Homo sapiens: one gene and its partner. The protein of the gene in region 2 purifies or fractionates together with the protein of the main gene of each other region. This does not show direct contact. Each region holds a gene or a part of one and is shown on either strand. Other genes may lie near its edges.

Evidence for each region.
Region 1: the proteins of PCYT1B (region 2) and RAP1GDS1 purify together in Homo sapiens (co-immunoprecipitation; one large-scale study listed by IntAct). This does not show direct contact.

What each region holds. Positions count from the first base shown.
Region 1 is NC_000004.12:98,441,622-98,444,434, reverse strand, and holds the end of RAP1GDS1 (rap1 GTPase-GDP dissociation stimulator 1), read right to left. Parts: intron 2,446-2,813; coding exon 2,318-2,445; 3' UTR 577-2,317; downstream 1-576. UniProt on the Homo sapiens protein: Acts as a GEF (guanine nucleotide exchange factor) for the Rho family of small GTP-binding proteins (G proteins) that stimulates the dissociation of GDP to enable subsequent binding of GTP.
Region 2 is NC_000023.11:24,560,150-24,563,974, forward strand, and holds part of PCYT1B (choline-phosphate cytidylyltransferase B), read right to left. Parts: intron 2,357-3,825; coding exon 2,144-2,356; 3' UTR 1,969-2,143; coding exon of another isoform or gene 1,936-1,968; 3' UTR 1-1,935.

The DNA of each region.
Region 1 (2,813 bases), on a different chromosome or scaffold from region 2:
AAAGCTTTGTTGTGCTGTTCTTCCCTCCTGTTGTCTCCCTTAGAATGTACTCTTAGTGGGTAGCAAACTAACTTAATAAATAGTGGCCTCTAGGACTAAGATTTAGTAGCAGGAGATAAGCGAGAGTACAGTCTGTAGACTCTCCCATCCACTGCAATGGCACATCAGTGTACCATCTAATTTGGTAGCCCCTGTGATAAGGGCACAGCCTTCTGGTCTTTCCGTACAATGATGAGTACTTTGAATTGCACTTTATTTTGCTGGAGATGGGAGTTCCTAGCATATTAGCAAATTGATGGCTGGCAGCTGGCCTAGATGGTAACTTCTCTCACATTTACGATTTTAGGATGCTTTTGTTAAAATTTTTTCCCTAAAGTCAGACAAACTATCAAATCTCAAACTTTCTATCAGTCAGTCAGTCTATCTTTCTGGAATTAGTTCAGGCAGTCTGGAAACTTCATGGATGCAGGATTCATTCATTCAGTCAACAAATATTTGTTGAACATCAATAGCAAGCCTTATTCTAGGAGCTGGAAATAGAGACAAAATATACAAACAAACCAAATGATGCCATTATAGCTTCATATACTATTTATTAAGTTATTAATATGAACAGATATGCAACATTACAGATGTCTTTCAAAGCCTGTAATAAAATATAGTCCACTATCCAGCCCAGGAGAAAGACAACAAACAGTATCATTCTTATAGTAAGTGTAGCATACGTACTCACAATAGTTCCCTTATTTGGACATCAAAGGGAACAATCAGTCAAGATTCTTTACCTCCATTAGAATTTAACTTTCTTGGATTATAGCTGTTTTAGAGTCAAAAGTCCAACTTAGATTATCCACAGAGATGTGTAGCATCACATGTTGGAGAGGAAGGAGCTACTGTCACCTCCGTGGCAGCCCTTTCTACTGTCTTGCAGTCCTTCTATATCGAAGCCCATCTTGCCTTTTAGGCCAGTAGTGGTCAAATTTGGGTATGGGGAGAAGGCAGGTGGGTCACAGGGAGGTTTTGATTAATTTACAAAGATTGTGTTTCAAAGCTCTAAAAACCCATTTGGTGGTGGCAGTGGCAGTGAAGAGTACACTATATTTCGCCAAGGGGGTCTTCTCATCTCTTGAGTCTTGGCTTTCTCATATCCTTTAAAATTGCTGCAGTTCTCAGTGGGAAAGTGGAGGTGGCAAACTCTAACAGCGATTGGTATGGGGCCATCTGCAGAATGAACTGGACTGGCTACTATGGCTTTTATAACCTGCTTTCCTTTCTTTAGTCTAGACAAGCTTATTTCTTCATCTTTCCACCTACGTCCTGCTAGTTCTAACATAAGATTTAAAAGGACTATGGAAGATAAAACTTCTCACTTTCTAGCTGAATGATGAAAAACAGCAAAAAAAAAAAAAAAAAAAAAAATTCCATTCTTCAATGAACTATACTCAATTTCCTCAGTTGAAAACAAACAAGCGCCAAATGAATTTTAAAGACAAGTGCTGGATAATGCTGATTAACTGGTAGAAGTAGTTCCTGAGTGAAACAGCGTATGTATCAGAATCTAAAATACAAGCAAAACCCGAAATGCTCTGTAATAGGGATTGTAATAGTGATTCTTCAACCCCTTAGTTTCACACTGAAAACTACAAATGTTTTTCAATATCAGGCTATTGATAATAGTCAATTAAATATGGAATCAGAAACCTCAGAAAGTCTTGCCAAGTTTGTGGCAGTTTCAATAGTCTAAAAAGGAAAAAGGAGAAACCAGAAGTTAAAGAGTAAGAGCATTGGAATTTTATTTAACTCTAGGTACCATGGATTTGACATCAGTAGGAAAGACTAATGAATAAGCAGCCATACAACTTTTTTGGTCACTGTGCTTCCCAAGCACCAAAAAATGGAGCTATTTTTCCAATTCAGTTTCATCTTTAATAAGCTAGACAGATCCTGCTGCATTCTTTGTTTCTAGTTTACCAGTACATCATTATGTAGTTTACTGCATGTGTGGAGCAAGTCATTATGTAGTACCAAGTTTACATCATCATAGGACTACAACATGCACATTCTACTTAATGTAGCTCAAGCAACAGGAATACAAGAGAACGGTTATGGGTGGAGACTTGCCTTTGACAAAGTCATGATCACACTAACTATAGGTTTAGAAATCTTATTAGGGAGGTACCTACAGCGGTTCTTCAATTGGTATTAGAACATCACATGCATGCACAAGTGGTATGGTAGAGAATGAAGCGGAAGAAGCCGCTGGATGGAGGACAGAGGGGAAATTAGAGATGGGATGATGCCGTGTATCGGGCAGTTCTCAGCTTTCCACAGTAAGTCTCTGCTCTGTGAGAGAGGCCTGCTGGGCAACACTTTTGTTCTCATGACTGCGAAGTTTGGATACGACATCTAGAAAAGCCAAATCCTGTACTTCCTTGTGTAGACATTCTGGAAGACAAAAAAATAACAGATATGATTCTGTTAGGTTGTTCTAAGTCTATCCAAAACATATACCAAAATGTTTATTTTGACAAGACTAAGCTTATAAAACTAGAAACAATTCTGGAAAAAGACATAGCAGTAGCCTAGCAATGTCTTTCTTAGAAATGTATTATAATTTAAAAAAATCATAAAAACTTTACTTTTTTTTAAATTAAAGGAAAAAATTTTAAAGATGGGGACTTGCTCTGCTGCCCAGGTTTGAGTACAGTGGCATGGTCACAGCTTACTGCAGCCTCAAACTCCTAGCCTCAAGGGATTCATCCTGCTCAGTCTCCCAAGTAGCTGGGATGACAGTCATGAGCCACTGCACAGCT
Region 2 (3,825 bases):
GAGCAGGGGCACAAAGGCCTTCCCAAGAGAGTCTCACCTGTAAAGTGAGGTCCTGAAATGGTTTTATGAGAGCAGATTTTCTTTATCCTCCTTTCCTCCCTCCAGGAACTTCTTTCCTCCTTTTCTCTTCCCTTGTTCCCGCCACCTTCCCTTGCCTGGCTGGCCTCATCCTTCACTGCTACAAGTGCCAACTAACTCAAATGGTAGGCAGACTTGCATGGCTTGACCTGAGTGCATGATGGAAGACAGAGACCAAATGGAAGAATGAGGCCCTTGTCCCTCTCTGAAGAGCAATATTCTGGGTGGCCCTTGACTGCAAAAAGAAGTTTTCTTCTTCACATGCCATGTTCCTGCCAGCCCTCTGTCCCATATGAGTGCTTCCCAGAGTCCTGGAGAAGGAAAGTGCCAAGAACAAAGAGGTTCCAAGCCAGCTCAGCCTCATAGTTTTGCTTCACAGCAGACAGCACTCATCTCCAAGTGGATAGGGAGGTAGTTCAACCCCAACAAGAAGGGGAAAGACATGCCGCCTTCCTTCACTGGTTGTCCCCTTGTCACCTAGAAGGCTGGTTCCCAAGGCCTCTGAAAAGGGGTATTTCTATCACAAGAGATTCTGGGCTCTGCCTACAAGTTGCTGGTTTGGGCCTCTATTCAGTCAGACCCCAGCTCTGTGTCTGAATTTACTGGCATACCCATACAATAACCCAAAGAGTTTGGTTCTATGCCTTAACTCTCCCTGCTCATTTCGCACAGGTGACTAAGGAGCAGGACCTTTGGACAACTCAGCAGGAACACTTAGAGTCTTCATCCTACTTGGCAAACCTAGGGCCAGAGATAATGGTGATACTACCTAGACCATTCAGATGCTGAGATCATAACTGAGCCCACAGTTCTCTGTAAAAAGTCTTGAGTTCTCCTTCACCCAAAAATGTTATAGGAGGCCACGAGAACAAAATACTAATTTCCTGGTTGGGATAAAACGTTTCCACAGGAATCTGGAATAAGCTTGACAAAGTGCCCAAGTCACAAGAGAACAGATGTTTCTTGAGACCAAGGATTTCAGAGGAGTATTATGGTGGAGCGCAGGAGTGGGGTCTATTATAAAATGCCACCACTATATACTCATATTGCACATGGGATACACCCGGGGATGACATATTGGAGCATATATAGAACAGATACGTGCAGGTAGCACCCCCTATTGGTATACTATGTTTGATACCTCAAACTGTTACTTGAGGTCTATGAAACTGTTAACTGGTCAGAAATGGGAAAAGCCATTCCATAATAGCATCCTTTAAGGAGAAGCTTCAGGAGACATTTCTTGTCCGCTAAACCTGGAGGCAAAGCAAAGCAGCTCCTCTTTTTTATATATTAGGAAGTTTTTCTTTGTTGCAGTTCCCACGGATTAAGGTAATTTCTGCAAAACAATGAAGTCAAACCAGTGATGAGAAAGTACAACCAGGAGCACATCAGGCCTTACGTGGAGTTCTTGACAAAACTGTCCTTTGAATAAAAAGTTAAGGTTCACACTAGATGACCTTTTATAACCAGCCTAAAGCAAGGCTTTGTCTATGAGCCACATTCATGGAACTGGAAGGAGCTGATGCGTTCCAACATCAGGTCTCAGTGGCTGGACTGAGGAGGTTGGAATCTGTCTTTTTCTCGACTATTTCAGAAGCACTTTGCCACCTCTATTGGAAACAATTTTATTCTGGCAGAGCTGGGGTGGTGGGAGGCAACGTGCAGGACCCTTATGGACGCAGAAGTAGCAGGTTGAGGGAACAGCCGCTGCCACAGGTGGTTTACTTGGTGGGGGTGGTGGAAGGACCAAAGCAGAAGTCACCCCATCAGTGCAAGTCTCTCTAGGGAACTCTGCATCCTTCCTTAGCAAGGTTAGAGTGACTCTAGACGCTAAGGTTTGTGTAGGTTGTCCAGCTAGAAGTCTCTGCACCTCGCCCAACTCTTCAGCTGTACGGAGAGTGAGAGAGAACTGGTCCCAAGACCTTCCCTTAGCAGAGTTCAGGGTCTCTCTGCTGAGCTGCAGCTCCTGTGACTATTACCCTTCAAACACCACCCAGGCAACCCTGTGACTCTCGCCCTCCTCCCCATCCTGCATGGTGCGGCTCTTGCCTCCCAGCAGCCTCTACTTTTCATCCTCATCCCCCTCGCTCATGCTGCTGATAGAGGCTGAGGCTGCTTTGGGTGAGGAAGGGGGTGAGGTTTTGAGTGGAAGCCATGAGAAGGTGGGCGATGGGGAGCGGGAAGGGGACCGGCTCCGGGTTGGGCTGCTCACAGGGCTCTGCTTCGGGGATAAGGCCTGCAGCATCCGGCTGCTCCTCTCCTGGAACATCTGCTTCTAAAGATAAATTGGAGAGAAGGCATCTGTTAACTTTGCAATCTGAGGCAGCAGCAAAACAAAAAGGTAAGGCAGGCAGGAGAGCCACTACCCCAAAACTCCTGAGCCCACAAACCTACACTCATACCACATCCCGTGTTGTCCAAGACTATGTATAGTAAGGAACCGAGTGATATTCAGGGGTAGTGACAGAAGATTACAGTCACCACTGGTTCTTTTTTTCTCTTTTTTTTTTTTTTTGAGACAGAGTCTCGCTCTGTCACCCAAGCTGGAGTGCAGTGGCATGATCTTGGCTCACTGCAACCTCAGCCTCCCAGGTTCAAGCAATTCTCCTGCCTCAGCCTCCCAAGTAGCTGGGATTACAGGTGCCCGCCACCATGCCCGGCTAATTTTGTATTTTTAGTAGAAACGGGGTTTCACCATGTTGGTCAGGCTGGTCTTGAACTCCTGACCTCAGGTGATCCACCCACCTCAGCCTCCTAAAGTGCTGGGATTACAGGCGTGAGCCACCATGCCCAGCTACCACTGGTTCTTAACACTCTTTCCTTCTTCCTTTTTTTTCTTCCATCTACAAAATTTAACTGAGTGTCTCTGACTAGCCAGGCAAGTAGTCATGACCTACGGACTGGAGGGGTGGCAGAAAACAAAACCCCTGACCTCATACCCTCACAGATATGAGGAGGAATCACACAATAAACAAAATATGGTATGTCAGATGGATCTGTGGTCTGTGAGAAAAAGAGGGCGAGAGGATAGCAAGTGGGGCTGGGAGCAGGGCAGCTGCGATTGCAAACAGGGTGCTCGGGGAAGGCCCCACTGAGAAAACGCTTCTTGAGTGAAGAACCTGGAAGAGATAAGGGGAGGGACCAGGTGAATGGAAATCAGAGGGCAGCGCACTCCAGACAGAGCACCCCAAGAAAGGAGCATGGAACGCACACCCAGGAAGCGCAGGCAGGGCACCGCGGCTGCCTTGAGGGCTGATAGATGGGGAGGAGCTGAGGGAGGCGGTTGGGAAGAGGTTGCCAGAGAAGGCACAGAGGGCTGTGCCATGGAGGGCCTTGGCAGCCATTGTGAGAACTCTGCCTTTCAGTCTGAGGGGACCCATGCAACAGGTCCCAGGAGAGGAGGAGGCCATCGTGGCAGTATGGAGCGAGCTGGTGGGGAAGGGAGAGGGGGAGGCACTGCGGGAGATCAGGCCAGAGACATATCAGGCGGCAGTTTCACGTACAGTCTCCTCTGAGAAGAGAAACCTCTGGAGAATTCTGAGCAAAGGATTAACAATCTGCTGCTTGTTTTCAAAAGACCATTCTGACTGCTGTGTTGGGAACAGATGGCAGTGAGGCGGGGGCAGGAACAGGGAGCCCACTTATGAGCCCGTTGCAATAAGAATCCAAGGCCAGGCGCGGTGGCTTATGCCTGCAATCCCAGCACTTTTGAAGGCCAAGTCGGGCAGATCATTTGAGGTCAGG